Regions from separate parts of the Homo sapiens genome. Here region 2 is linked to region 1. The links come from fine-mapping of genetic effects on gene expression. A gene starts in region 1. The other region holds a variant in brackets. All regions are shown on one strand. Distances are from middle to middle.

Region 1 (15,709 bases):
CCAGGCTGGAGTGCAGTGGCATGATCTGGTTCAAGTGATCCTCCTGTCTCAGCCTCCTCAGCAGCTGGGACTACAGGCACGCACCACCAGGCTCAGCTAATTTTTGTACTTTTTGAAGTAGAGTTGGGGTTTTACCACGTTGGCCAGGCTTGTCTCGAACTCCTGACCTCAAGTGATCCGCCCGCCTCAGCCTCCCAAAGTGCTGGGATTACTGGTGTAAGCCATTGTGCCTGGCCTGAGCTACTATTTTTTTCTGTAAATTTCTACAGGTAAAGTTTCAGAGCCAAAAGGATAGACTTCTATATATTGGTAGCTGTTGCTAAACTTGTCCTCTAGAAATGCTGTCATTCCCATGTACAGTGATGGAGCGTGTTTCCTTCTACCTGGGAGCCTGGGTGCTATGAGAAGTGTGTCTATGCAGTGAGTGGGCAACAGCTCAGAGTGAGGATTCAGATTAGGTTAGGAGGGGTCTGGTAGGGGCAGTGATGGTAGCAACGGAAGGTGAATTACACACTGAGGAGGTTGGCCCAAAGAGGAAATATGGCGAAAATAACAGAAGACGAGTTTCTTCCTCTCAGGGAGGTGTCGTAGGGATGAATGCTGTGGTGTCAAATTGGAATTACAGGTACTGATGTCAGTGCATGCTTTTCAACATTTATAGATAGATATAAAAATAAGTATCAGGCTGGGTGCAGTGGCTCACGTCTGTAATCCCAGCATTTTGGGAGGCCAAGGCGGGCAGATAGCCTGAGGTCAGGAGTTTGAGACCAGCCTGGCCAACATGCTGAAACCCTGTCTCTACTAAAAATACAAAAATTAGCCGGGCGTCGGCTGCCCCGTCTGGGAAGTGAGGAGCGCCTCTGCCTGGCTGCTGTGCAATCTTCCAAGTGTGAAGTGACAGCCTTTCTGCAGGTGTACCCAACAGCTCCGAAGAGACAGCGACCATCGAGAACGGGCCATGATGACGATGGCGGTTTTGTCGAAAAGAAAAGGGGGAAATGTGGGGAAAAGAAAGAGAGATCAGATTGTTACTGTGTCTGTGTAGAAAGAAGTAGACATAGGAGACTCCATTTTGTTCTGTACTAAGAAAAATTCTTCTGCCTTGGGATGCTGTTAATCTATAACCTTACCCTCAACCCCGTGCTCTCTGAAACATGTGCTGTGTCAACTCAGGATTAAATGGATTAAGGGCGGTGCAAGATGTGCTTTGTTAAACAGATGCTTGAAGGCAGCATGCTCGTTAAGAGTCATCACCACTCCCTAATCTCAAGTACCCAGGGACACAAACACTGTGGAAGGCCGCAGGGACCTCTGCCTAGGAAAACCAGAGACCTTTGTTCATGTGTTTATCTGTTGACCTTCTCTCCACTATTATCCTATGACCCTGCCACATCCCCCTCTCTGAGAAACACCCAAGAATGATCAATAAATACTAAAAAAACAAACAAACAAACAAAAAAAAACCCAAAAAAACAAAACAAAATTAGCCGGATGTGGTGGTAGGTGCCTGTGATCCCAGCTACTTGGGAGGCTGAGGCAGGAGAATCGCTTGAACCCGGGAGATGACGTTGCAGTGAGCTGAGATCATGCCACTGCACTCCAGCCTGGGTGACAGAGCAAAACTCCATCTCAAAAAAAAAAAAAAGTATCAATATATATGTGTGTATACATACAGTATATATAGTATGTGTGTATATATCTATATATTTATACATACATATATTCCCTAGCTCTGCCCACTGGAGGGTCTGGGAGCAGCAACAACCCAACAGTAATGAGCACACTCAGCACCCAGATCTTGAGCACTGATTTCATTACCACCAGATCTGACCCAGATCTCATGACTATTATTACATATATATATATTTTTTTAAGCAGAGTTTCGCTCTTGTTGCCCAGGCTGGAGTGCAATGGTGTGATCTCAGCTCACTGTAACCTCTGCCTCCTGGGGTTCAAGTGATTCTCCTGCCTCAGCCTCCCAAGTGGCTGGGATTACAGGCAAGCGCCACCATGCCCTGCTAATTTTGTATTTTTAGTAGAGTCGGGGTTTCACCATGTTGGTCAGGCTGATCTTGAACTCCTGACCTCAGGTGATCCACCTACCTCGGCCTCCCAAAGTGCTGGGATTACAGGTGTGAGCCACCATGCCTGTCCTTTATTTATTTATTTATTTATTTATTTTTTGAGACAGGGTCTTGCTCTGTCCCCTACACTTGTGTGCAGTGGTACAAGCATAGTTCACTACAGCCTTGACTTCCTGGGCTTGGGTGATCCTTCCATCTTAGACTCCCAGGTAGCTTGGGCTACAGGCATGCACCACCACACCTGGCTAGTTTTCGTATTTTTGGTAGAGATGGGGTTTCACCAAGTTGCCCATGCTGGTCTTGAACTCCTGGGCTCAAGCAATCTGCCCGCCTCGGCCTCCCAAAGTGCTGGGATTACAGGCGTGATTACAGGCGTGATTACGGGCGTGAGTCACTGTGCCCGGCTGATCTTGGTTTCCATCATTCTCCACTAAAGGAGCCAGAGCTCCTTGGAAAATGGCTTATTCCAGGATAGCCCAGAGAAATAGGAGATGAGCCTAGAACATTGTATTGTGCCAGAAAATACAAAATATTCATAATGACACATCAAAAGGATATACGATCCAACTTGAAGGGGCTCCCACTGGTCAAATCTGGGACAAATCTGAACATCAACACAAATAATGATAATGAATTAGTATCCTTTGAATAGAATAAGAAATCATGGGTCCACATGGATATAAATAAAAGTGATAAGAGGAAGTTTCTCCTTCTAGTCACAGTCAGCTCGGAAATGAAGGGATGATGGGGTTTAGAATCACCATTTGGCAGACCATCATAGTAATAATTTATGCATACAAGAATCATACACAGGCCAAGCACGATGGCTCCCGCATGTAATCCCAGCATTTTGGGAGGCCGAGGTGGGTAGATCCCTTGAGCACAGGAGTTCGAGACCAGTCTGGGCAACATGGTGAAACCTCATCTCTACGAAAAAAATAGAAACATTAGTGGACATGGTGGTGTGTGCCTGTAGTCTCAGCTACGCAGGAGGCTGAGGTGGGAGGATCAGCTGAGCTTGGGAAGTCAGAGCTGCAGTGAGCCGTGATCGCACCACTGCACTCCAGCGCCTGGGTGACAAGCAAGACCCTGTCTTAAAAAAAAAAAAAGTCATAAACAGATGCTAAAGTTCTCCTGGGCATCTTTTTGCAAAATGGTTTTGCCAACCTTATAAGCCTGCTGGGACAAGCTGTCCCCCAACCCTGGGTCTCACAATGCCTTGTGACTCCATTGTGCTCACACTAGCCGTCTGCCACCCTCTCTGAGGCTGGGTGCCTTTGACAAGGGCTTGAATCCCTGAGTGGCAGGGTCATCTGTGGTTTGTTCTGGCTGCTTGGCACCTGGGCTGTCTGCCAGGGGCTGTGGATGACCCACTGGGTGGGGAATCTGCCCCTCCTCCCCTCCAGAAGGCTGCAAGACCCATGCTCACCCCACCCATGCAGCGAGAGTGCAGCAGCAGGACCTGACTTTGTAGCATCCTGTCTCTCACCCCGGGGCAGGGGGTCCAGGGCAAGTGCTTCAAAAGGCGGGGACATGGTCCCAGCCTGGGGCCAGTGTCCACGGGATGCCGGGTCACAGTGCCAACCCTTCTAGCTGCAGCCCCACCGTCTCCCTGCCCCTCCAGCCTTCTTGTTGATTCTGTGAGCTGCCGGATGTTTTTCAGGAAATCCGGCCTAAATCAGCTGGAGCCAGTTTTGATTTTTGAAAACCAAGATCCTTACCTGTTGCAGTAGCTTACACCTGTAATCCCAACACTTTGGGAGACCGAGGTGGGTGGATCACTTAAGGCCGGGAGTTCAAGACCAGCCTAGACAACATAGTGTAACCCCGTCTCTACAAGAAATACAAAAATTAGCCAGGCATGGTGGTGCATGCCTGTAGTTCCAGCTACTTGAGGGGCTGAGGTGGGAGGATCGATTGAGCCAGGCAGGTTGAGGCTGCAGTGAGCCGAGATCGCACCACTGCACCAGCCTGGGTGACAGAGTGAGACCCTGTCTCAAAAAAACAAACAAAAACAAACAAACAAACAAAAAAACAATTCAACAGGAGGATCTTCTGGCACCCTGTCTTTCAGTCTTCACATACCTGGCCTTCTCTTAGCTTTAGGCCAACTGTGCCCATGCTGGTGCCCGCTCCTCCATCACACACCCTCAGTGCACCTGCCTTTGGTCCCCTTTCCCTGTGTCCAGCAGTTGCTGTTGATAGGCCCAGCACTGTGTACTTACCTCCTGATTCAGTCTTTGTTCCTAAGAACACCCCAACCCTAGAAAGACGCATTCCGTATGCATGCACCACTGTCATTTCATCACCACTTTCCGGTTCTTTGATATATTTCCTCCAATTTAATGTTATTCCCTTTGTAATGCTGACCTTCCTCGCACTCTGAATATTTACTGCTTTAGTATCTATTGGCTGTGGCAGCAGCCTGCCTTGGGAACAGGCAATAATGGAGAAGGTTTGGAAAAGAGTTGTTGAACTGACTAAAAGTGGCCTGCTTTTTAAAAAGTGGCACGATGTGCCAGTGATTCTAAACAATGTTGGTGATAAAATATTACTCCTGCCAGGCGGACTGCCTCCTTAACACCTACTCCCTGGTAGGCTACTGCCTATTGGACAGGGGGAACTAATGGTATTCATAGAACACTTCTAAACTCAACCAGAACAGAAGCATTTAGTGGTAAAGAAGCATTATGTCTGCAACTGACTCTCATAGTCCCCCAAAAATATAGGAATCCTTTGTATTATTCTTTCAACTTTCCTGTAGGTATGAAATAATGCTAATATAAAAGGTTAAAAAGGTCAGGGCTGGGCGCGGTGGCTCACACCTGTAATCCCAGCACTTTGGGAGGCCAAGGTGGATGCATCGCCTGAGGTCAGGAGTTCAAAACCAGCCTGACCAACATAGTGAAACCATGTCTCTACTAATTAGCCTAGTGTGGTGTCACGCACCTGTAATAGCAGCTACTTGGGAGGTTGAGGCAGGAGAATTGCTTGAACCGGGGAGGTGGAGGTTGCAGTGAGCTGAGATCACACACACCATTGCACTCCAGCCTGGGCAACAAGAGTGAAATTCTGTCTCAGAAAAAAAAAAAAAAGTTAAAAGGGAAAAGAAAAAAAACTACTAAATCAAACACAGCAAACTGCTGCAGACTAACAAGTTCCTGAGTCCTGATGCTGGTCACCTGTTGCAGGGGGAGAAACTTTTGTTCTGAAACCTCCCTCTGATCATGACTATGAGAATTTATAAATGGGAAGACCCCAAGAGGAGCTTCTGTAACACACCCAAGTGTGGTGTGTTAGCTGGGAAGGCTGGTGGACTTGAGGGTGGCCTTTATTGCTTGGAGGAGTAGGTGCCAGGAGCACCCTGTGGGCACACAATAAGATCTGGCCCCAGTCCAGGGTGGCATGAGGGACACACAGGCCCTAGACATGAGAGACACAGGCTTTTTCTGGCCTTCTCACTGTGTGACTTGAACATGTCCTCCCTTTGGCCACAAGCGGAGGTTGGGGCCTGGTACACAGGCTGAGCCCCTGTGAGGAGGTGACCGGCTCCCTGTGCCCAGCACCCTGCCTGAAGCCTGTGAGCTGGCTGTCTCTGGGAGAGCTCAGGAACAGGCCTCACAGCCCTCAGGGGGCAAGGGGCTAGACAGTCCCCAGTGGTCCCCTCTAGGAGCAGGAGAGGCAGGGGCGATGCTCCCCGGAGGTCTCCTCCGCTGCTGGTCCCCACCGGGCTGCAGGGCCCCGACTGCCTGCACTGTGGCTGGGCTCCCTGCAAGCCTGTGTGCTCCTTTCCACTGGGACTCAGCTCTCCTTCCCGGGGTGCTGGGGACCTTGCCCTTCCAAACCCTACTAAGGACAGCTCCCACCCCAGCCCTGCCTCCCAGCAGCTTTCTGGTATCTTCCAGAGAATTCCAGGCTCTTCAACCCTGCACTGAGTGCTTAAACCCACATTATCACTCTTAATCCTCATGGCATCCCTGAAGGACAGGGGCTATGTTTGTGTTTTACAGGCAAAGAAGCTGAGGCCTGAAGCGCAAAGTGGCTTATCTGAGGCCACGCTGGCAGAATGCGGAGTCTCACTCTGGCCTCACAGCCTCCAAAGCCTGTACTCACCATGTTCCCTGCCTGGCTTGACCATCTCTCCCACCAGTTTCTGTGAGCAGACCAGGGCTGGTGGCTCAGGGAGCATGGGTGCATGATCACACAAAAGCCACGTGGCTCCCTGAGGTGCAATCCCAGCCCCCAAGTTCGGAACCCCATCACCTGAGGGGCCCAGACCATCCTCCTCTAGCTCCTGGCCATGGCCAGGCTGGGACCCCACAGAGCAGAGCTGGGTAGGGAGCTCTCTGACCTTGGGAGGTGCCCAGATGGGTACAGCGACTCTCCCTTGCTTCGGATATTTACTGTTCTTGTTCTCCATGTTTGCCCAATGAAGCCTAGTGATGGGGGTCCTGGGTGATCCCCATTGCCCAGGCTGCAGAACAGTGCCTCCCTCCTGTCCAGAGCTACAGTGTCCCCAAGCTCATCTCATCCTCCCTGCCTCCCCTCTGTAGGCAGTAAGTGGGGTGGGGTTGGGGCGTTTCTGGGGGAACCATGGGCTTGCCAGGAGCTGCGGGTCAGCCCAAGGCTGAGAAGGTTCTGGTTTAAGCCTGGCCTGAGTTTAAGCAGCCCCTCTTGGCTCTCAGGGACTCAGCAGGATGAGGAGGGGATACGGAGCTACTCACATGCCTCTGGCCCCATGAGTCCTGCACACGCCTGGGACTTGGGTGGTATCTCAGCAGCTCCTGGAGGTCCCAGTGGCCCTCCCTGAATGCATTTGCTGTTGTGCAGAGTTGGGTCCTTGGCCCCCTCATCTGGGCAGACGCCCACCAGCCAAGCTTAGATGGATGTGTACACCCAGAAAACTGGGGGGTGCCACCTCAGGACGGAGCAGGAGCAGCAGGATGTCATACGTTTCTGATGGGACACTACCGTGGTGGCCTTGAGCTCAGGCCCGGAGGCCAGGGCCCCTAGGGCCCTCTGCACAGTGCGGAAGTGAGGGCCACAGCCATTGTGGCCACTGAGCCTCTCCTTTTTGGGGGCTGCTCTTTAGCCTTTGATGGCTGCTAATGTTATGTGAATGATGCAACCCGCTGTAGGAATTCCTGACTGGCAAGAGTCATTCTGCCTCTGCAAGGCTAGGTGGGTCCTTCCCCATCCCCTCCAGGGCTGTGTGAACCAAAGGGTCCACGGGGACTTTCGGACTGCTCAGAGTCTGTGCAGAGTGGTATGTGTGTGCGCGTGTGTGTGGTGTGGTATGTGCAGAGTGATGTGTGCATGCATGTGTGTGTATGTGTGTGTACATGCATGTGCGTGTGTGTGTGTGTTCCAGTGAAGGGCTGGGGTCCAAATGCTCCTCACTTGCTAAGAGCAGCCTGTGATGCCACAGTGGTCTCTGATGCTGAGTGATGTCATCCCTCCTTGCCCGTCTGTTGTGCTGGCAGCCCTGTTACTGAGGATTTCTCCTGGACTAGCTCATCAGGGGCTGAGTAGTTAATTCCCAGGGCACCACAGAATCCTTTCTCCCAAGGCCCTGAGGACCACGTGCCCCTGCACTTCCCACAACCGTCCCCTGCCTGGGACTCTGTTTACATGTGGAGTTCCTGGGAAGGCCGGCCTGGTGCAGGCTCCTTGAGGGCCTAACTCCCATCCCCAAGCCCAGACAGTGACTTATGGAATTGGGGGGCAGTGGGGAGGAGGAGGGTGCAGGAAAGCGGGGGGAAGGAGGAGCCTCCAGTTGCCACTAAATGGTGACAATCCCACCCCACATTTCTTGAGTGTTGGCCATGTGCCAGCCCCTGTGCTGAATCTTGACGCTCAGTGTCTCATGTCACCTTCACAATAGTGGCGATGGTGGTTAGCCCATTCTACAGGAAGGGGAACTGAGGCACACAGAGCTTCTGAGCTCACGGTGGCCTCTCGGGGTCCTGTGGCTTTGTAACCTCTCCTGGTGCTCCTCAGTGTGATTCTGGGGCATGGGGCTCTCCAGAGGGCGTTTGTCAAACATGAGGATTTCTGGGCCTTGCCCAGGCTAAGGAGACAAAACTCTGGGCAAAGGCCCCGGAACCAGCATTTTACTCTGTGTGATCCGTCATTTCTAGGGTCCCTAGAAGTTTCTGATGAAACAGCTTCCAGCTAAGGAGCTGATTGCAGGACTAGGGAGTGGGAGCAGGTGAGGCACTGGGATTTGCATGTGGGCAGTGTGGGGGAGCAGGAGGCTGTGGCTGGGCATTCTTAACCCTTCCCTAAATTCCCTCCATCCTTGTCTATACCCCCACCCTTGGTACAGTGATGGGGGCAGAAGAACATTTGAACGGATAAGGGGGACAGTATTTGGGGCTGAGGACAATGGTGAGGAGAGGGTGGCCCAGGGAGGCAGGTGAGGAGTGGGGAGGTCCACCCCCAGGCTAGACTTTGGTGTGCTCTTTTTCAGAAGGCAGTGGGGGGGCCCCAAGGAAGGGTTTCGAGGGGGTGATGGTCGTTGGTGGCTGTGGGAGGATGGACTGGAGGGAGAATAGGGGGCTCTTGCCCAGTCCTGCAGGGCCGAGCGCCTGGACTCAGGGACTGGAGGCCCCGAAGGGAGCAGCGGGTGAGAGGGGCTGCGGAGGCTGCAATCATGGGCCTTGGGACAGAAGAAGAGGCCTGGAGCCTGGGAGGATGAACCGCACCGGGGCATGTCGACTTCAAGGGGCTGGTGGGCCGTCCCTGTCCTTGGAGGTGGGTCTGAATGGGGGGCAGGAGGAGCTGGAGGCCGCAGGGACACCGTGACGGCGTTAAGCTAAACTCAGCACGCTGGAGGGCGGGAATCACATGTGAGCCCCAGGTCTCTCGGGCTCCTCCTCTGCGGCTCTCTGAGGCTCAGTTTTCTCATCTGTAAAACGGGTTGTTGTGAGGGTTCCGTCAGATAACGCTGCTTGTGGAGGTGTCGCCTCCACGCTGCTTGTGGAGGTGTCGCCTCCAACGGCCGCGTCCTCCGCCAGTGCGGGAGGGGGCGCCGCCCGGGCTGCGGGGACTGCACTGCCCCCTGGCGGCGTTCCCGGCCGGACAGGCGGGGCGTCGGGGCGCGGGCTGGGGCCGCTGTCAGTCAGTCCACTGGCTCCCGCGCCGCGTCTGTGTCCGTCGCTCGGAGGGTGGAAGCCGGGGTCTCGCGGGCCGCGGGCCGCATGGTAGGTGCGCAGGCGCCGGCGTGGGCTAGGGCGCGGCAGCTGGGCCGGGGCTCGGTGCGGGCAGGGTCGTCCTAGGGCGGGAAGGGTCCGAGGGCTCCGTCGGGGTGCCCCCCGTCCCCGCCACCGGGGAGCCTCGCAACTTCTCGGGTCATTTGTGTCTTCCGGCCAGGGGCGCCGGGGGGCTGCGGGCTTGCGACCCTTCCTCGAGGACCAGGGCGCCTCCCTTGAACCCGGGCTGGCGCCTGCGCGTTCCCAACTGGTTCCCGAGGCTCCCGCGCTGCTGTGCAGCGGGGGTGAGGGCGGGCGGGAGGAAGGGTGTGGGGCTCAATAGAGGAGAGGGAACCCCAGAACTGGCAGTGCCAAGGGCGTCAAATATGGAGACTGAACAGTTCAGGTGACAGAAAACAGAAAAAAGAATCAACTTGTGGATGAAGCATTTGTAGTGTGTAGCCTTGACACTCCCTCACTTGACTCTCATAGTGACTGGGTCCCCAGAGCAAGGGGGTGATCCCCGTGCCCTTCCGTATGCCAGGCAGGCCCTGTGTTAATGTCTTTAATGGATTAAACTCCCTGGATCCTCCTAATAGGGAAACAGCCTCAGAGAGGTTACCTCGCTAAAGGTCACACAGCCTGGAACTGGGGAGGCTGGATTCGAATCCAGGCAGTTGCTTCCTGAGCGCTTGCTCTTGAAGACCCTGCAATACCAGGCATTGTGCCCATTTTACAGATGCCCAAACGAGTGCCTCATCTAGCATCATTGCTTGAAAGAGGAGACACCCAAGATCTGTCATTTACTCAAAGGTTCCAATAGATCATGAAATTTAAAATCAAAACCCCACGTGTTTTTTTTTTTTTAAATGTAGATTTTTACTTTTTCGTTGTTTGCTTTTTGTTTTTTTGAGACAAGGTCTTTCTCTGTTGCCCAGGCTGGAGTCCGGTGGCACAATCTCCGCTCACTGCAACCTCTGTCTCCTGGGTTCAAACAATTCTCCCGCCTCAGCCTCCCAAGTAGCTGGAATTACAGGCGTGTGCTACCACGCCCGGCTACTTTTTGTATTGTTAGTAGAGACGGGGTTTCACCATATTGGCCAGGCTGGTCTTGAACTCCTGATCTCAAGTGATCCGCCTGCCTCGACCAAAGTGTTGGGATTACAGGTGTGAGCCACTGCACCAAGCTTATTTTTACATCTCTGACTTGTGGATGGAAGAGTTTTTTCTTTCTCAGTGGTGCCTAAAATAATGGTCATCATAGCGCTAATGTCACCTTTGGCTTGATGAGTGAGGACAGAGCCAGCATTCCCTGAATGATCTTTCTGGGCATCTCTCCCCTCTGTTCCACAGACTCCTCTCTGCCTCAATTGCTCTGTCCTCCCTGGAGACCTGTACCCAGGGGGTGCAAGGAACCCCATGGCTTGCAATGGCAGTGCGGCCAGGGGGCACTTTGACCCTGAGGACTTGAACCTGACTGACGAGGCACTGAGACTCAAGTACCTGGGGCCCCAGCAGACAGAGCTGTTCATGCCCATCTGTGCCACATACCTGCTGATCTTCGTGGTGGGCGCTGTGGGCAATGGGCTGACCTGTCTGGTCATCCTGCGCCACAAGGCCATGCGCACGCCTACCAACTACTACCTCTTCAGCCTGGCCGTGTCGGACCTGCTGGTGCTGCTGGTGGGCCTGCCCCTGGAGCTCTATGAGATGTGGCACAACTACCCCTTCCTGCTGGGCGTTGGTGGCTGCTATTTCCGCACGCTACTGTTTGAGATGGTCTGCCTGGCCTCAGTGCTCAACGTCACTGCCCTGAGCGTGGAACGCTATGTGGCCGTGGTGCACCCACTCCAGGCCAGGTCCATGGTGACGCGGGCCCATGTGCGCCGAGTGCTTGGGGCCGTCTGGGGTCTTGCCATGCTCTGCTCCCTGCCCAACACCAGCCTGCACGGCATCCGGCAGCTGCACGTGCCCTGCCGGGGCCCAGTGCCAGACTCAGCTGTTTGCATGCTGGTCCGCCCACGGGCCCTCTACAACATGGTAGTGCAGACCACCGCGCTGCTCTTCTTCTGCCTGCCCATGGCCATCATGAGCGTGCTCTACCTGCTCATTGGGCTGCGACTGCGGCGGGAGAGGCTGCTGCTCATGCAGGAGGCCAAGGGCAGGGGCTCTGCAGCAGCCAGGTCCAGATACACCTGCAGGCTCCAGCAGCACGATCGGGGCCGGAGACAAGTGACCAAGATGCTGTGTAAGTGTCACGGCTGGGAAGAGGGGCTGAGCCAGGCACTGGGTATGAGTTTGGGGCTCCTGGGGCCTGGGAGAAGGGGCTGAGTATCTGGGTTTATGGGGGACGAGGAACTCCTCTAGTCTCGTGTGTGTGTGTGTGTGTGTGTGTGTCTGAGTTGCACTCCTGTGTACTCTTTTAGATTACCCTACTAGAATCTTACACCAAAAATACCTGTTAATGGCTAACGGTAAGATTGTGTAATTTGTGGAGTCCAGTGCAACATGAAAATTCAGGGTCCCTTTTTCAAAAATGAATAAGAATGTCAAGACAGCAACAACAGAGCATTAAACCAAGCCCAGGACCCTGCTAAACTTGGGGCCCTGGCTCTGGAACCAAAACACAGAAAGGGCAGGGCATGTGGTTGGGCTCCAGGATGACAGAAAATGGGATCTGGACCCTCCAGGTCTCAGGTCTCTCCTCTTCTTTTTTTTTTTTTTTTTTTTTTTGAGACAGGGTCTTGCTCTGTCACTCAGGCTGTGGTGTGACCACGGCTCACTGCAGCCTCAACCTCCCAGGCTCAAGCGATCCTCCTACCTCACTCAGCCTCCTAAGTAGCTGGGGCTACAGGCAGGTGCCACCATGCCCAGCTAATTTTTTCATTTTTGTAGAGACGGGGTCTCACTATGTTGCCAGAGCGGATCTTGAACTCCTGGTCTCAAGTGATCCTCCCACCTCAGCCTCCCAAAGTGCTGGGATTACAGGCATAAGCCATTGCACCCGGCTCTCTTTGGTTATTAACGTGTCTTGGCCTTGTTCTTCTCGGCAGCAGCCTGTGAGGCATGGCCACCGGCACGCCATCTTCTTTCCTGAGGAACTGCTGTCTTTCCTTAGAGATGAGTGAAAAATCCCAAGAAGGATTCTGATGGGCGTGGCCTAGGTCATGCCCCACCTCCTGAGCCAGAGTGGCAGGATGCCGAGGTGCACAGCCCCCAGTGGAACTACACAGTGAGATCTGGGGGGAGCAAAGTCCCCCAGAGAAGGGGAGGAGGGTGTTGGAGAGGCCAGGTGCTGAATTTCCCCCATGCCATGTCTGCGGTTCCCTGGGAACCGCAGGAGAGACCATTTGTCTAAACAGCCCCATCCCGAGGCGTGTCTGTGAAGGCCGGGCTCAAGGCACAGGGGATCAGGCCAGAGGCCTGCGGATTAGGGCAGGCTAAGGTACTGGGATGAGGCTCTGGATCTCTGTGGCCTGGACCTGGCTCTTTTTCAAAAGCTGTGGCCCTGGGGAAGCAAGACAAACTGATACTAAGCCGATCAAAGATCCGCCCCATCCACCTACCTGCATCCCAGCTCAGCCCCACCTCAGCAGAGCCTGAATCAGGCCAGTGGGGTGAGCCAGGTCAGCAGAGGGCCACTGAGACTTTGGACAGAGCCAGCTAACTGGGGGCCGCCCCATCTCCAGAGTGACTCGCTCCTCTCACCCCTCAGACACCGTCCCAGAGCTCAGTCTCTTGTGCAGCTCCTGAAACGAGGCTGACCCCAGAGCTATGTGCATGCCTCCCAGCTCTGCACGGTGAAGCCTGTGCTCAGGACCAGCTGCCCACTGCCGCCCTGCCTCCTGCCTACTACCCCGTCCCCTCCCTGAAAACATGGGTGGGCAGAGTCTGCAGTAGGTGCTTAGCTGGGGTGGCTCACCCCTGGAAGGTGGGCTTCCTGCTTGCTGGCCTTCTCTCTTCCCTCCCTCCCTCCCTTGTCCACTTTCCGCTGGCCCTCTGTGCACCAGGCCAGGGGCCAGGGAGGTTGTGAGCAACGTCCTTTTTGAAATCTGGGATTATGAGGAAAACCATGCTAGGGTATGATGGGGAAGACACTGCCCAGGAAAGCTAGTGAGTTGCAGCAGCAAACCCAAGAAACAAGGAACAAAAATCACAGCTGACCCTGTGGCAGAGACCCAGGGAAGGGCATAGTTGGGTAAGAACAAGGCAGGAGGGATTTGGGGAGAAAGTGAAGGTTTGCCAAACTCTCCTACCTTTTGTTAGGGAGGGGGTGGGCAAGGGCCTGGCAAGTAAGATGGGGGGCAGGTTAGTGCAGGGCAAGACATTCAGATGGGCCTTGGGGAGCTGGGGGCTGGAGCTGAAAAGGCCGGGGCCAAGGCAGGCAGTGTGTGTGTGTGTGCATGTGTGTGTCTGTGTGTGTGCATGCATGTGTGTGTGTGTGCATGCGTGTGTGTGTCTCACTCTCCCTGGCCCCATGACCTCCGGTCTGCCGCTCTCTGAGCACGTGCCCCATTCTTCTTTTCTGTACTTATGCATCAGCAAGCATGGCCCCCAAGTGGGCATCCAGAGTGGCCCTAGCCCCACAGCTTGTATCACCCCAGAAGCTCAACAGCCACAGCTAAGTGTCACCCAATTTCATATTCCAGGGTGAGAGAATCTGATTGGGCCGGCTGGGCTTAGGTGTCCACACCTGGTCCAGTTGGCTGTGGTCAGAGGCAGGGATATGCCCCATTGCCCACAGTCAGTGACCATGGTGAGGGCAGCCTCTCTGAGAGAGGCATGGCCAGAACAGGCAAATTTCCAGAAACTTCCACCTGGGTGATAGGTGAGGGTGGCCTGTGGGATAGGAGAGGATGTGAAAATGGGTGACCCAAACTGAAGCCCGGGAAGGCAGCTGAGGGGCCTCGGGCGGGCACTCGGCCTCCCTTCTCTGTCCCTGCAGTTGTCCTGGTCGTGGTGTTTGGCATCTGCTGGGCCCCGTTCCACGCCGACCGCGTCATGTGGAGCGTCGTGTCACAGTGGACAGATGGCCTGCACCTGGCCTTCCAGCACGTGCACGTCATCTCCGGCATCTTCTTCTACCTGGGCTCGGCGGCCAACCCCGTGCTCTATAGCCTCATGTCCAGCCGCTTCCGAGAGACCTTCCAGGAGGCCCTGTGCCTCGGGGCCTGCTGCCATCGCCTCAGACCCCGCCACAGCTCCCACAGCCTCAGCAGGATGACCACAGGCAGCACCCTGTGTGATGTGGGCTCCCTGGGCAGCTGGGTCCACCCCCTGGCTGGGAACGATGGCCCAGAGGCGCAGCAAGAGACCGATCCATCCTGAGTGGAGCCTTAAAGTGGCTTCACCTGGAGGGGCCAGAGGGTCACCTGGAGCTGGGGAGACACATCTGCCTTCCTCTGCAGGGATGCCTTCACGTACTGTCCCTAGTTCAGCCTAGAAATTCTGACCAGCACCTCAGTTTCCCTCAGAGGGAAACAGCAGGAGGAGGGATCCCTGACTGCTGAGGACTCACACTGACCAGACGCCACACCTTGTGCTTCTTATCTGTCCACTGCCACTCCCCCAGTTCAAATCCTTACCCTGCAGAAATATCACAGTTAGCTGGGGCTCAGCAGTCCTCCCTCTGGGGACTCCCTGCCACCACTGCCAGTTTCTGAAACGGTCCCACTGGGTCCTCACTGTCCTTCCCAGTTCCTGTTCAGGTTCTGGCAGGGGCCCAGGGATCCAGGGGACCTGGTTCCAATCTCAGCCCTGCTGTCACCACCTTGTCATGCACCATCAAGCATATCAGTCTACCTTTCTTTTTTTCTGAGACAGAGTCTCACTCTGTCGCCCAGGCTAGAGTGCAGTGGCGCGATTTTGGCTCACTGCAACCTCCGCCTCCGGGGTTCAAGCGATTCTCCTGCCTCAGCCTCCCGAGTAGCTGGGACTACAGGTGAGCCCCAGCATGCCCAGCTAATTTTTTTTAATTTTTAGTAGAGACGGGGTTTCACCATGTTGGCCAGGCTGGTCTCAAACTCTTGACCTCAGGTGATCCGCCGACCTCGGCCTCCCAAAGTCCTCGGATTACAGGCATGAGCCACCACACCCGGCCAATCAGTCCACCTTTCTAGGCCTTGGTTCCTTGCCTGAAAAATGAAAGAGGCGCTGGCTTTCCACAGTGTCATGCTTTGGCACTTTAGCTATGGTTTTCTTTCTGTGTGTGTGTAAGCCACTGCTTATAATAAAACCAACAATACCCTCAGACTGAAAGGGCGGAAGTTATTATCTGCATCTTTATCAACCCCAAGCCCCACTTCCTCCCTGACCTCCCCATGCCCTCCCCAGCCTCTCCCAGCACAAGTGGGGCAAAGCCAGCATGCAAGCAGACCCCACCACCACAGCCCACCTCCGTCCTCACATACGTGCAGGCTGGCTCGGGAGTCC
Region 2 (15,709 bases), 120 kb after region 1:
GTCTGTGGTTCTCTGTTATGGCAGCCCTAGCAAACTAATACACCAGCAACCTTGAAACTGACCTGAAAATTTGACTTCTAGTAACTTATACTACAGATAGACTGGCATGTGTTCCTGGCATGTGCAGGATATGCGAGGGTATTGTTTGTAGCAGTCAGGGTTCAATCAAGAAAACAGAAGCCACTCTAGGTATTTTGAGCAGAAAGAGAAGCATTGGAAGGGCTGGGAGAGGAAAGGCCAGGAAAGTTCTAGAAGTTAGGAGATGGCAGGGAAGTCATCACCAGTGATCCTCGGTGCTGGCAGGGCCAAAGCACATGATGCCCAGGGGGACACCTGGAGCTGCCGGAAGCTGTCACCAAGGATCTCAGGCTGGTCTCGAACTCCTGACCTCAAGTGATCCGCCAGCCTTGGCCTCCCAAAGTGCTGGGATTACAGGTGTGAGCCACTGTGTCTGGCTGGATCTCAGCTGCTTATAGCACTGCAGTGGGGGTCATGCAGGGTGATGCCCAGAAGCCGAGGAAAGGAGTCTGCCATGAGTTTTGCTGCCTAACCATAGTAGCTGCTGGAGACCAATGGCTTCTGCTTCCTTCATGGGCAGAATTCAGCCTAGGACATACTGGAAAGGGGCTCTGGAAATGCAGGGAGATGTAGAAGGGGATGGGAGTGATGTTACATTAACAAGGACTGATCTAGCACCGTCCATCCACAGAGGCTGGTTAAATACACCATGGTTTGTTCAGACGGAACACCAAGCAGCTTCAAATGGAATGCAGAAACTCCGCATTTTCTGCCCGGTGACCCTCAGCAGTGTGGGTGGCCAAATGGGTGGCCCACAGACTCTGAGAAGGCCCGGAAAGGTTGTGAGGACAGAGCCCTGACCGAGGGACAAAGCAGTCCCTGTCAACCTGGATAACAGCCTCAGCCCTCCTAGTCCCCAGAGTGAGAGGAGCGGGGCCAAGAAACAAGCACTTTTAGCAACACCAAGGGCTTCAAAAGTTCTGTCTGGAGCAAGAACAGGAGCCAGCCTGGGACTGGGGTCTCCGTAGGCCACTGCTTTTCCTCCAGCGCCAGTGAGGTGAGGCTGGCACTCAGGCTGGTCAAGGAATGCAGAGGAAGACAAGTCCCCCATTCATCCCCTGAAAAGGGGGCTGCACCTGGCGCAGGAGTGTGTCCAGGCTGCTGGGGTGCTGGGGCCCTGCCCTCTCCTTCACCCCCAGATTTCAGTCCAGATGACCCTTTATGAGCTCATGCTCTTTGTCTGCTACTTTTTTTTTTTTTTTTTTTTTTTGAGACAAGGTCTTGCTCTATTGCTCAGGCTGGAGTGTAGTGGCACGATCATAGCTCACTGTAACCTTGAACTCCTGGGCTCAAGCGATCCTTCTGCCTCAACCTGCTGAGTAGCTAGGGCTACAAGGGTGCACCACCGCGTTGGCTGATTTTTGAATTTTTTGTAGAGATGGAGTCTCACGATGTTGCCCAGGCTTGTCTGGAACTCCTGGGCTCAAGGGAGCTTCCCAAAGTGCTGGGATTACAGGGTGAGCCACTGCACCCAACTGCCTGCTACTTCTTGTTTTATGGAGGTCCTTTTGGTTTCTCTTTTTTCCTTTTTGAGACAGGGTCTTGCTCTGTCATCCAGGCTGGAGTGTAGTGGTGCAAACATGGCTCACTACAGCCTCGACTTCCTGGGCTCAAGCGATCCTCCTGCCTCAGCTTCCCTGATAGCTGGAACCACAGGTGTGCACCACCACGCAGGGCTCATCTTTTAAATTTTTTGTAGAGATGGGTCTCCCAGGCTGGTCTTGAACTCCCAGGTTCAAACAATCCTCCCACCTGGGCCTCCCAAAGTGTTGGGATTACAGGTGTGAGCCATTGTGCCCAGCTACTTCTTGTTTTTTAATTTTAAAACACATAGGTCGAAATTGTTTTGTTTGTGTGTGACTTTAGACACACATTGTTCAATCTAGCACACCTACCATTCTGAGTTACCTGGCTCCTCCTAGCTTTTCTGTTTAAGTTGGCTTATCTTTTCCTGGCTATCTCATTCCTTTACCTTTATTATTTCACTTCTGTATCTTTTTTTTTTTTTTTTTTTTTGAGACAGAGTCTCTCTCTGTCGCCCAGGCTGGAGTGCACTGGCGCGATCTCGGCTCACTGCAAGCTCCGCATCCCGGGTTCACGCCATTCTCCTGCCTCAGTCTCCCGAGTAGCTGGGACTACAGGCGCCCGGACCGCGCCCAGCTAATTTTTTTTTGTATTTTTTTTAGTAGAGACGTGGTTTCACCATGTTAGCCAGGATGGTCTCGATCTCCTGACCTCGTGATCCACCCGCCTCGGCCTCCCAAAGTGCTGGGATTACAGGTGTGAGCCACCGCGCCCGGCCCACTTTCGTATCTTTTTTTCCTTGAATTTTGCACGTCCTTTGGCAATTTCAACCCTTGGGTATTTTAGCTGAATTACGGTTTATCCTTTTAATTTTTGTGCATCTGGTTTCCTCTGTGTCAAATTACTTACTTCGGTGGAGGATCCTGGGGTGGAGGGAACACGAAGCTTCTCCCTCTGACTCCGCTGCAAGGTCCCCAACCCCAACATCAGAGGGAAGGGCCTGACCCCACAGGTCTTGGGGGACAGCCACAGTTAGCCCTACCATGCAGCACGTGCCCTAAGGGAGCCTTCTGGTCCACAGCTGGTCAGCAATGCCCCTGAGTTACTCAGGGGGAACCTAGATGGTCCTAGAAGGGTCAGAGGCACCAGTGGTGGGTGAGCAACAGTAACCTGTGTGCAGAGTCAATGACACTGACGAGAAGGTAGTGGGTGAGGTTCAGCCGTGGAGGGAATCACCCAGGAGACAAACCCAATGGGTATTATCACCCAGGATAATTTGAGAAGAGAAGGCCGGATCTGCCCCTGACAGGGAGACCACTGATCAATAGTGAAGCAGGATAGTTCCTTGAGCCCTTCTCAGGACTTTGGACAGGGGTGCCTAGTTTACTTAGCCCACTGCTCTCAACTGCTGGTGGGAGGGAGCACACAGCAAACGAGGCGGGAACTGGAGCGCAGGAGTGCTGGAACCAGCCAGCTGTTTCAGTGCGGGCGGGATCAGACTCCACTCTCTCAGATCCACCGCATTCCGACCCTCGTGAAAGGGAGCACACAGTTGAGCAGGTGCAGGAGCTGGAGCGAGCGCTTTTGGGCGCCGGCAGCAGTGAACTTCGTTCAGGCCCCACAACAGCGTCCAGGCAGGGTGCCTGCGACTCCCGGGGCCCCGGAGGCCATGTTAGAGTGCTCTTTTAGCTCTGCTGTCCACGGACGGCTTAAGTGTTAACAGCTCTCAGTGGGCCCATGGCTGCCCTCTGCTAGCGAGGGCGAAGGGCCAGTGTGACAGCCTTTCGTATCCACACTTGTGGCTCCTAAGCTCTTGTCCGGCATCCAGGAAAAATGAGGTCACACGAACGAATTGAAGGATAGTAAATGTGGGAGATTTTATTGCCAATGAAAATGGCTCGGTTTGGGCACCGTGGCTCACACCTGTAATCCCAGCACGTTGGGAGGCTGAGGCGGGCGGATCACGAGGTCAAGAGATGGAGACCATCCTGGCCAACATGGTGAAACCCCATCTCCACTAAAAATACAAAAATTAGCTGGGTGTGGTGGCGCGTGCCTGTAGTCCCCGCTACTCGGGAGGCTGAGGCAGGAGAATTGCTTGAACCTGGGAGGCAGAGGTTGCAGTGAGCCGAAAATACAAAAATTAGCTGGGCCTGGAGGGCATGTGTCACTGCACTCCAGCCTGGGCGACAGAGTGAAACTCCTTCTCAAAAAAAAAAAAAAAAAAAAAAAAAAGGCTTTCAGTGGGAAGGGGAGCTGTTAAGGGGGATGTGGGGTAGGTAATCTTCCCCTGAAGTCCGGCCATCTTTGGCAGATTCTTTTTTTTTTTTTTTTTCCCGCCTCATGTCCCTGTCAGTAGGATTTAGGAACAAATGAGGAGCCAAATACCTGAAAGCTATGAGACCAGGATAGCAAGGCGGCTTCTGGCTACAATGCAGTTTGTGGGATTCAGGGGTAATTTAACTGTGCTCTATTTGCTGGCTTTGGGATCAGTGTTATATTAATTTCATACAATGAATTGGAGAGCTTGTCATTTTTTGCCATGGCAAAAATGGGCTCATAGGCTAGAACTAGTTGTTTCTTGGGAGTTTGAAAGACCTTACTGCCTGAAAGAACTTACTGCCCAAATGGTCTCCAGAGACTCTGGGAAGGTGACTGATAACTCTTTCCAATTGTTCCTGGATTATGAGAGCATATGGGTTTTCTTTATTTTTAGAGACAGGGTCTGGCTCTGTCGCACAGGCTGGAGTGCAGTGCGATGGTCACAGCTCACTGCAGCTTTGAATTCCTGGGCTCAAGTGAGCCTCCTACCTTAGCCTCCCTAATAGATGGGAGTACAGGTGTGTGCCACACCTGGCTTCCTTTCTTTTTGACTCTATTCCTTTTGTTTATTTGAACCATACTTTTCTTTTTTTTTTGAGACAGAATCTCACTATGTCACCAAGGCTGGAGTACAGTGGCACAATCTCGGCTCACTGCAACCTCTGCCTCCCGGGTTTAAGCAATTCTCCTGCCTCAGCCTCCCAGGTAGCTGAGACTACAGGTGCATGCTACAATGCCTGGCCAATATTTGTATTTTTAGTAGAGATGGGGTTTTTCCATGTTGCTCAGGCCACATACTTTTCAACAAGATTTAAAATCTACTCATGGCAGGGTGTGGTACCACATGCCTGTAGTCCTAGCTACCCAGGAGGCTGAGGCAAGAGGATCGCTTGAGCCCAGGAGGTCAAGGCTACAGTGTGCTATGATCGCTCCACTGCCCTCCAGCCTGGTTCGACAGAGCAGGACTCTGTAAAAAAAAAAAATTAATTTTAAGAATAAAAAATTAAAAATCTATTCATATATGAATTATAATTCTTATACTTTTACACTTTAAACTGCATTTAATTAACTTGCTAATTACACTTGTCTTTCATTAAATTTGGCATAGGTTTAGCTATTTTAATGCTTTTTTAAAAAAATAACCGACAATTTATCTACTCCTTTCAAATTCATTAAATTTGACTCATCTCTCTTATGTCTTTATTATTTCTTTTTTCTGGTTTTGTTTTACTCTGCTTTAAAGTTCTTTTCTGGGCTGGTCGTGGTGGCTCACACCTGTAATCCCAGCACTTTGGGAGTCCGAGGCGGGCAGATCACCTGAGGTCAGGAGTTCAAGACCAGCCCGGCCAACATGGCGAAACCCTGTCTCTACTAAAAATACAAAAATTAGCTGGGTGTGGTGGCAGGTGCCTGTAATCCCAGCTACTCAGGAGGCTGAGACAGGGGAATCACTTGAACCCAGGAGGCGGAGGACGTTGCAGTGAGCCAAGATCACACCACTGCACTCCAGCTTGGGTGACAGAGCAAGACTCCGTCTCAAAAAAAAATAAATAAATAAAGTTCTTTTCTGGCCCAGCGTGCTGGCTCGTGCCTGTAGTCTCAGCACTTTGGGAGGCTGAGGTGGACAGATGAATTGAGCTCAGGAGACTGAGACCAGCCTGGGCAACATCGCAAAACCCTATCTCTACCGAAAATATAAAAATTAGCTAGGCCTGGAGGGCGTGCCTATAGTCCCAGCCACTGGGGAGGCTGAGGTGGGAGGAGCTCTTCAGCCTGGAAGGCAGAGGTTGCAGTGAGCCAAGATGGTGCCACTGCACTCCAGCCTGGGCAATGGAGTGAGACCCTGTTTCAAAAAAATAAATAAATAAAAATAAAATTCTTCTCGTGCAATGTTGAGTTGAAACATTAGTTCACTTGTTTTTATTTTTATTTTTACAATAATGAATGCATTTATAGTTGTTAAATTGGGCAATGTTCAGCAGCTACAGCCTTAAGCCCAAGGCCTGACACGTAACACCCCTTGAAGTCAAAATGAGGTAAACTGACATTATTCCCTTAAATATAATTATGTGGTCTTCCCGATTTCAAAACAATGAACCATTATAGTTTTTACTTTCTCTTTGACTCAACAGTTATTTAAGAAACAGGCTAGGATTTTTGTCATTGTTCTTGTTTGGTTTAATTTTGTGGGTAATTTCTGATTTACCGTATATTGTGGACATAGAGTTTGGCCTGTTTAATTTCTGCCTTGGGGGATAGTTGATGTTGTCTTTCCTTCTAATACACATACATGGTAAAGGTTTCATATGCAAAAAGAAGATACAAGCTGTGTGTGGTACAGAATTTGATACAGATCTTTGATTCAAACTACTCATGGTATTGTTTGGGTCTTTGATGTCTTTGGTTTATTTTCATTTTTATTTTTTTTGAGAGAGTCTTGCTCTGTTGTCCAGGCCAGGCTGGAGTGCAGTGGTGGAATCTAGGCTCACTGCAACCTCTGCCTCCCGGGTTCAAGAGATTCTTCTGCCTTAGCCTCCCAAGGAGCTGGGATTACAGGTGCATGCCACCACACCCGGATAACTTTTGTATTTTCAGTAGAGATGGGGTTTCACCACGTTGGTCAGGTTTGTCTTGAACTCCTGGCCTTAAGTGATCCACCCACTTGGCTTCCCAAAGTGCTGGGATTACAGGCGTGAGCCACCCTGTCTGGCCTGATGTCTCTGATTTTGGTAAGTTAAATCTCTTCTAGGTTGTTAAATAGTATGTTAAAGACTCACTATATTTGTGTTTCTGGCAATATCTCTTTGTACTGCCAACATTTTTCTTTTTTTCTGAGTGTTTAGGTTTTTTCTTTTTAACACAACATCCATTTATTTTGCCACAGTCCCACAGGTCAGGAGACCAGTACAGCATGGCTAGGTTCTCTGTCCAGCTGCATCCCTCCCCTGGAATTTAGGGTCCTCTTCCAAGCTCATTTCTATTACTGGCAGAATTCAGTATGAAGTTCCCATTTCCTTGCTGGCTGCCAGCCAGGGGCTGCTGTTAGCTTCTAGAATTTGCTATCATTCCTTGCCACCTTGTCCCTCAGTCTTCAGGTCAACAATGGCATGTGAATTCTGCTTCTAGTCTGACTTCTCCTTCTGCCACCAGTGGGAGAAAGCTCTCTGCTTTTAAGGTCTCATGGGATTAGATGAGGCTCACCCAGAATATTTCCCTATTTTAAGGCTAATTGTGCCATGTAACCTAAGCTAATTACAGAGGTGACATCTCATCATGTGCACAGA[C/T]GGGTTCCAGGGAGCCAGGCAGGACATCTCTGGGGTGCTGGATTTACTGTGCTGCACACTAGAGAAGGTACATTTTTATCAGACACCCTCTATTTTCTTTTTCTTTTTTTTTTTTTTTTTTTGTTTTTGAGATGGAGTCTCACTCTGTGGCCCAGGCTGGAGTGCAGTGGCGTGATGCCGGCTCACTGCAACCTCTACCTCCCGGATTCAAGCAATTCTCATGCCTCAGCCTCCCGAGTAACTGGGATTACAGGGATGTGCCACCATGCTGGGCTCATTTTTTCTATTTTTAGTAGAGACAGGGTTTCACCAAGTTGGCCAGGTTGGTCTTGAATTCCTGACCTCAAGTGGTCCACCCACCTCGGCCTCCCAAAATGCTGCGATTATAGGCATGAGCCACCGCGCCCAGACCCACCTCTATTTTCTAAGTGCTAAACAACATGGCTCCAAAGCATAACTGAAAAGCAGGTTAGTTGCTCATCGCATGCAGAGTCCAATGAACAAGCGCGAGGTCTGGTGTAAGAAAAGTGAATGTATTCCAAAGGTAGCTTGGGGAAGGGACACAACGCGTCCTGCCTTTACATGTGCTGCTTCACCTTTGGAGCAGTAACATGGACACTTTTATAAGGTCGGGGGTGAGCAAGTATGCAAGGCAGGCGTTCCCCTGTTGCCCCGTATCTTATCTACTGGATAATTGAGTTGGTGCCTTCCCAGGCAGAAATAACTTGTAAAAGTGGCCAAGCGGGAATGCTTTCGACATACCCTCCTGGAGGATGAAGGTCACTTCCAGTTTGCAGAGCAGAAGTTCTAAGGTCACCCCATGGAGGTAAAAGTTCCGTGGCAGGTACGCTTCAGTCTGGAAATCAACTGTCAGCAAATCGACTGTCAGCTCTCAAGGAAAAGATCTGTCTTGGAGCCGTTGAAGAAATTGCCCTGAAGGGAATTACCCTGAAGGGAATGTCTAGGGGGAGGTGAACGGTTACATTTGCATTTCTGAAGGGCTGAGTAGGAAACGGGAAGGAGGGAAAGGGGAGAGAATAGAAAATAATAATTAAAAAAAAAGTAATTCATTCCGTTTTTCTTAGAAAAAATGGGAGCATTTGGTTACAAAAATACATAAAATCTAGCAAGAAACATTCGACTAGGTCTGCGGGAGCTGAGCTATCTGAGCTGAGCCTGGCCTCCCCATCAGCGCTTAGCAAATTGCAGGTGGTCTTAACAAATTGCAGGCAGTCATGGTGGACAGGCAGCTGTTTCCAGACTTGCCTCCATCCTCCAGACCCTAGCACGTGTCTGAGTGGTGGCTAACATGCAGCTTTTGCAGTCAGGCCACCTGAGAGCAATCTCAACCTGCCCCTTTCCAGCTAGGCAGCTCCAGTATGGGGAGTGGCTGTTTTATATTTCTGTCCTGCATCAGCCCCTGAGGCAGGCATCCCTGTACTTTCACTTCTGTGAGCCCACACATCTCCTTGCTGGTCGCAACCAGTTCGAGCAGACTTTCTTTTTTCCTTTTCTTTCCTTCTTTTTATTATTATTATTTTTTTTGAGACAGGGTCTCATTCTGTCACCCAGGCTGGAGTGCATGGGCACTGTAACCTCAACCTCCCAGGATCCTCCCATCTCAGCTCCCCTCCGCAACCCTCAGTGGCTGGGACTACAGGTGCTCATGCCACCATGCCTGGCTGATTTTTGTACTTTTTTGTAGAGGTGGTGTTTCACCATGTTGCCAGGCTGGTCTCAAACTCCTGAGCTCAAGCGATCTGCCCATCTAGGCCTCTTAAAGTGCTGGGGTTACAGGTGCGAGCCACCAAGCCCAACTGAGCAGAATCTCATGTCACTTGAAACCAAACATATCCTTACCATCGTTGGCTTTATATATTAAGATTTTATGAAAAAATGATTATTGTGTCATTTGTCTATGAGATCAGATACTAAACAATTAGAACAGCAAACTGTATCCTGCTATCCAAGGCCTTAGTTCTGACCTCACCAGGCCTCTGAGGGTGGGCCCCCAGTAGGGATTTTTGAGGTCCTGAAGGGGCTGCACTCACCTCCCTGGCCGGTGAAACAAGATCATTTCTCCTTCCCTGGTAGAGGCCCCTAAGGTGGCCCTGAGGGTCTCGAAGCCCCCTCACTCCCTCCGAGGCTGTCGGGATCTCGCACATTTCTCCTAAGCCTCAGGCCTGAGCTTGGTGGAAAGGCTCACGGAGGAAAGTCTTCCTTACACAGATGAGCCAGAGAAAGGAACGAGCAGCCCCTGGAATCTCAGTGCCAGGAAGCAGTTCCTGTTAACAGCTTGGTGTGGCGCTTTCCAGCTTAAATCCGCATAAAAAAGATGCCTTGGGGTACAAGTAATGGAGTTCCAGATTTCACACAACCTGCTCAAATCGTGCAGTCTCCCATCCACCTCAGCGTCACGATGCCCCCGGCGGTCAGTTGGGGGCGCTCCCTGCCCTCTTCTGGGATTGCCAGGGCGGGGACTCACCCAGCCCTCCAGCCCGGCCAGCCCCTTGCTCCTCGCGGGGCCCCGCCCCGACCCGCGGCCCTGCAGCCGGCACTGGGAGGTCTACGCCGCCTTACCCCACGCCTCGCGCAGCTCCGCGGGCTGGTCTCGAGGGGAGATGCCCTCGCTCGGGGCGCGCACCGGGTGGCGCCGAGATGCCCACCTCCTCCGCAGGCCCCCGGGATCCATCGGATGCCACCCCCACCACACACACAGGGCTCCCCCACCCTCGACAGCCGAACGCGTTGTCCCCTGCACAGCCCAGGCGGGTTCCGCGAGGGGCTCTGGGTCGCACCGCGCCCCGGGACGCCCGCGCCCACCCAGCAGCTCCTGGCTGCCCGGCGACGAGGAGCCGCGGGGGGCAGGCGGAGCCCGAGGGGGGCAGCTTCGCCATGGGTGAGGGCAGGGATTCCACGCATTCCTGTGGGATTCGGCCGCACCGAGGAAAAACAAAGCCAAGGTGATTTGTGATAGGTCACAGGCTGCACGGCAGGGTCAGTCAATCCCAGCCCAGGCCGGTAGTTCCCAACTTGAGTCACCTGGGAGCGATAAAAAATGCCTGGGCTCGCGCCCCACCCACTCACTCATTCGGATTCATTCTGTCTGGTTGCGATCTGGACTAGATATTTTCTCAAATTCCCGGGGGGCAAAACCCTCTAAAAGGATTGAGCTCTAAGCTTTGGCTCACTTTGGAAGGGTCTTCAGTGAGTATACAATGTATTCCAAGATTCAAGTTTTGTTTTAGAAATATAAGCAAAAATTGCATTCTGTTCGATAATGTATCTGTGTTCATTTTCACATAAAGGCAATTGGTAAAAGACAATTTTCAGAAAAAGGTAGATTCATGACCCTTGTTCAGAAATAAAAAATGAGCATGTATTAAAGATTTATTTTACTCATAAAAAGGACAAGGTAGATGTTATATCTGGTTCAAAGGAGACATCAAAAAGCACAAATTTATATGGAGTGAAGGAATTGAATTGCAAACAGCGGCAAACTGGTTTTTCCACCGTGGGGGTGTTGGTGGGGGGTGGAAGAGAAGTCAATGGAAGCTTCACCTGACAAGACAGTTTGCAAAGCCCTCAGTACTTGCAACTTAAAAAGAGGTGCAAAATAGCTCAAAGACCGTGAATGGGGCTGGAAGCAGACAGGTCTGGCTGTGCTTTAGATAATGTATAGTGTTTCACTGGAACAGAAAAGTTTTTCTTCACAATAGCTTAAATAACTCTCTGGAAACATTTATTTCTTACAGCCCTAATAACGCTGGGCTCCCCCAACCATCACAGTTTCAATCGCTCATTGGACATAACATTTTCCTCCTTTTAGACAGAAACAACAAACACAGATATTTGTGACTAAGTTACTGCTAAGGAAAAAGGATGGGAGGCTGGAGGCTCTTGGGAGACAGTAGAGTATGGGGGTTAGGTGTGCAGGGCACAGAGTTCAAATCGTGCCTGTCACACAATAGCCGTGGGATCCTTCTCTTAGAGCCCTCCATTTCTTACTTTGAACATGGTGTATAACAGGATTCCAGAAGCTTCCCCCTGCTCCTTCTCAGTTTAGGTGCACAGAATAAGTCACCTAGGAACAGCTTTCTTTGTTAAGAGTAGGATTCTTTGAGTGGTCTCCTTTAGTTATGTAAATGTGGCTGAGTAGGCACCCATTACCCTGGGGGAAGAGTGGAACTGGACTTTTTGAGGACTGACAAAGGCTACCCCTTTTCAAGGCCCCTTGGAATGCACAGCCAGTTGCCGGGGAGGAGGGAACCATTTTGCAAAGCCAGGGCCTTTGAGGAGGAAAGAGTTAAGACCCTGGGACCAACTAAAATCTACTGTCTAAAAAGTTGCTTCACCAGGCCAGAGAGAACCTGAGTCTGTGGGATTCCCCCACAGACTGTGTAGCTGACTGGGGGGCCACAGGACCCAGCACCCCTGGCATGCTGCTGCTCTCTGGGGAAAGGTCGTTGAGCTTGTGAGGGTGACTGAGAGAAGGGTAACTTTGTTTTGGAAGCATAGGCCCCACCGCAGCCTGTGCAGTGAAGGTAGCCAAGCCTCAGAAGCCACAGGACTGTGCAGGCCCGCTGTTCCACAGCGCCCCTGTGTGGAGAGAGAGGGAACAACTGGAGATGACTGCTCAGACTTTCCAGAGAACCCTCTCTTTGGAGGAGGGAAATCCCTGAGGTTCTTGGACAATTTGAGAGTGGGTTCCAAGAGGCTGATATTGGATTTTTCTGCCAATAATGGTACATGAGGGATTTGAGCAATCAATGAGAAAAATTAAAAAGTAACCATATTTGTACCCTGAGTTAAAGTCATATTGACTACACGTTAAATGTTTACCAGGGTGCCTGGCATATGAAATGTGCTCCATAAAATGTCAGTTGTTATCATTACCAGGAAGCAAAACTAAATGCCTGATTTTCCAGAGTGGGGCCCCACTGGAGCTGGCCAGAATGGGCCAAAGTGCGCCAGAGGGAGGGGTGGAGGTGCCTCAAAACTGCCCTCTGCTCCCTCAGGCTGCCGTGAACCCCTGCTCTTTGTCCCTTTGTGCTCAGGATAAAGTTAAAGTACTCCTGAACCTAGAAGACCTGAGAAACTGCCCTGCCTGCCTCCCAGCCTCCCACCCCTTCTCTCACCCCAGGTCCAGCCCCGAGAGGAGCTCCTTTCCGCTTCAGAATGCATCCACCCTGCTCCCAGCAGCCCTTGGTATATGTGGTTCCCTCTGCCTCATCCTTCAGGGGCAGCTGAACCCATAACCGTCTCTGGGCCTCCACCTGGGCCTGGGTCCTGTGGCCTGTACACCTCCATTTTCTGGGTGTCCCTGGGCTGCCCTCTCCCATGCTGAACTGTGAGCCCCAATCCCCTCTCTGCAGCCCAGAGCAGGACCTGGCTTCTGAGGATGAGGAGGGGCAAATAGGGCTGGCATCACAGTCGCAGGCCTCCCTCAGAAGCTCCCAGCACTTGGTTTAATGCTCAATGCTCTGCTGTGGCAATCTTAAATTCTTTTTTTTTTTTTTTTTTTTTTTGAGACAGTGTCTCGCTCTGTCACCCAGGCTGGAGTGCAGTGATGCGATCACAGCTCACTGCAGCCTCGACCTCCTGGGCTCAAGGGATCCTCCCACCTCAGCATCCCGAGGCAATCTCTGGCAACCTTGGCCCCAGACAGGTGCGTGCCACCACTCTGAGGTAATTTTAAAATTTTTTAAGAAAAAAATTAGCCAGGCGTGGTGGTGGGTGCCTGTAGTCCCAGCTACTCGGGAGGCTGAGGCAGCAGAATGGCGCGAACCTGGGAAGCAGAGCTTGCAGTGAGCTGAGATCGCACCACTGCACTCCAGCCTGGGCGACAGAATGAGACCTCTGTCTCAAAAAAAAAAAATTTTTTTTTTTGTAGAGACAGGGGTCTCTCTATGTTGCCCAGGCTGGTCCCAAATTCCTGGGCTCAAGCCATCCTCCCACCTCAGCCTCCCAAAGTGTTGGGATTACAGGCGTGAGCCTGACCTTTAAAATTCTTAATACCTTTTTAAAACCAGGGTCCTGTAATTTCATTTTGCACTGGGCTCTGCAAATTATGCAGCCGGCTGGCCAAGAGAGAACTGTGGGAAGACCTGTGCTGAGGAGGGAGAAATAGCAGTGTAGCAGGATGAGTCGCAGACAAAACTCCTCAGACACCAGATTAAAGAAGGAAGAGGTTTTTATTCGGCCGGGAGCGTCAGCAGACTCGCGTCTTAAGAGCCGAGCTCCCCGAGAAAGAAACTCCTAGCCCTTTTAAGAGCTTACAACTCTAAGGGGTCCACGTGAAAGGGTCATAATAGATCAAGTAAGCGTGAGGAACGTGACTGGGGGCTACACACATCAGCTAACAGGACAAAAAGTTTTACGGTGCTTTCTCACACAATGTCTGGAATTTACGGATAACACCAGTCGTTTTGGTCAGGGGTTAATATTATTATTATCATTCTAACCACCAGGGCCAGGTGGTGGCGCCAAGGTCGTCTAGCTATTTATCTTACTTCTGTTTCTTTCCAGCTTTTTGCTTTCTCCCTTTTCTCCCGTCTTATAAACTAGGGAAAAGGGGAGGTTGGGGAGAAGCTGGGAAGGACAACAGGAGAAGTGGTGGTCTCATTCCCTATTTCCCCCCTTTGAGAATTTTCACTTTTTAGTGGGAGTTCTCACTCTCATCCTCACTTTTTGAGTCTCTTTGCGAGATAGAGCGATAGTGATTCATATAATTCACGTGTGCTGAAGTTTTCTGATGAACCAAAGTAGCAACAATACCTTTTATCATTTGAAAAAGCAAGGGTAATACACAGGGGAGCAGCAAGCAAGTTCTTATTACTAGCAATACACCTACAATGAGGGTTTTAAATCCTCCTATAGCTGGAAACCATTTTCCAAATAAAGACTCAGGATCAAACTTGTGCCAAACCTGTATAGGCGTGTGTGCCAACTTTGTCATGTCCCTGACTATGTTTTCAATCACCTGTCCTTGATCATCTATTTGTAGGCAGCAATTGGTTAAGTTAAATTTTCCACAAACTCCTCCTTCAGCTGCCAGCAAGTAGTCCAAGGCCAGTCTATTCTGATAGATAGCATTCCTCATTTGGGTTTCCTGCCGAGCTAAAACAGTCAAAGCTCTGCCAGTTTCATTAGTAATTATTTCTAAGACGGTCTGCAACCGTATGATCTGATTGAGCATGTAGATGGGGGTTTGGTATCCCCATGAGCCGTCTTGTACCCATGTGGCAGGCCCATAATATTGTATGATCCTTTCAGGGGGCCACTCATTATCTTTCCAGTTTCCTATAACTATGCCTCTCTTTTCTCGGGAGGTATAGACACGGAAACCTAGGAGCTCACCCGTTTTTATGGGTAATAAGAAAAAGGACAGCTTAATAGTGCCAATAACACAACTGCCTGCCCATTTATTAGGTAACTGAATGTAGGCTGTGTGCCCACATATCCGGTATAGTCCGGTGGGAGCCGTCCAGTCCTGATGAGATTCTGGATGAGCCCAGGCAGTTTTTAATTTAGAAAATTTACTAAATGGGTTCTTTTCAGTGTGGTTTAGGCCCCACCAAGTAATTGTCTTTGTTGTGCTGTTGTACAACTTCTGTCCTATACAATTAAGCTTTTCTACAGGGACGATAAAGTCTTTCCCTTCTCTAGCTATACAGTATTGTCCAATAATTAGGATTTTAGGACCCAGAAGTTGCTAGCTTGGGCCTTCTGAACTGGAATTATATCAGGAGCTGGATCAGTAGGCACCAACTCTCGGGCTTCCCAAGGCCATCGGTCTCCGATAGTGGTTCCCCTGCATACATAACAGGAAGTAACATTAAGGGAAAGAGCTACATTTTCTGCTAATTGGAGAAACAAATTTTTTGTCTTTTTCGGAAGTTCTGGTGCTGGCAGATTCAGCTCCTCATAAAAGGTTTGAAACACTGGTTTGGGAGAGTGCTTGTGGACCTCCCCTCTAACTAAAATGGCAACTTGGGGGTTTATCCCTGTCCCATCGATCCCCAGGGTTACACGTTCTCCCTTTTTCCAACGGGGATCTAGGGGATTGGTAATTATTAGTTCTAGTGGGTTACAGTGACCGGCAGCACAGGAGGGGTTGGCGTCCCCCTTCTGAAGATGAACCAGGTCCTTTTTGTTCTTTTTCCAAGTAGCCCAAATAACACATGGCCAAAAGGCACAATTTTCACAAACCCCTGACTCATGACAAACATATTTATTTTCTACTCTGTAGCTCCTTTCCCAGTTAAGAGAACCACATCCTGTTCCTAGCTTGTTACTATTAATGGCTGCATAAGCATCAAATCTTAAAGTTACTTGTTTGGGGATTCCTTTTTCTTCTGTTCTAGTTATTATTTTACTTGTATCACCTGGGAAAAGGCCAGTTCTTAATCTTCTGTCAAAAACAGTGGTTACAGGGGGCTCAGATGGGTTATAACACACATCAGGTTGGTCATTTCCCGGGCTACATACCTTGTACTGAG

The links. PIP is the estimated chance that this variant, and not a neighbour inherited with it, causes the effect.
Region 2: its variant is fine-mapped to the expression of NMUR1 in whole blood (TOPMed, PIP 0.93).

The regions. Positions count from the first base shown.
Region 1 is chr2:231,523,939-231,539,647 of GRCh38, reverse strand. NMUR1 (neuromedin U receptor 1) reads left to right here and starts at 9,203. Exons shown (of 3, transcript NM_006056.5): 1 at 9,203-9,289; 2 at 10,631-11,525; 3 at 14,223-15,709. The coding sequence starts at 9,287. The coding sequence ends at 14,605. LOC105376787 (a long non-coding RNA gene) reads right to left here and starts at 7,478. Exons shown (of 4, transcript XR_001739928.2): 1 at 6,809-7,478; 2 at 5,034-5,156. RefSeq lists silencers at 1,124-1,324, 8,946-9,375 and enhancers at 3,473-3,974, 7,517-8,251, 10,741-11,267, 11,268-11,795, 12,901-13,402.
Region 2 is chr2:231,406,476-231,422,184 of GRCh38, reverse strand. LOC124907997 (a long non-coding RNA gene) reads right to left here and starts at 9,889. Exons shown (of 2, transcript XR_007088118.1): 1 at 9,260-9,889; 2 at 7,721-8,209. RefSeq lists enhancers at 3,244-3,745, 6,952-7,711, 7,712-8,472, 10,567-11,171, 11,172-11,777 and 1 more and a silencer at 9,683-10,022. The variant C/T (reference allele first, on the strand shown) is at 7,209.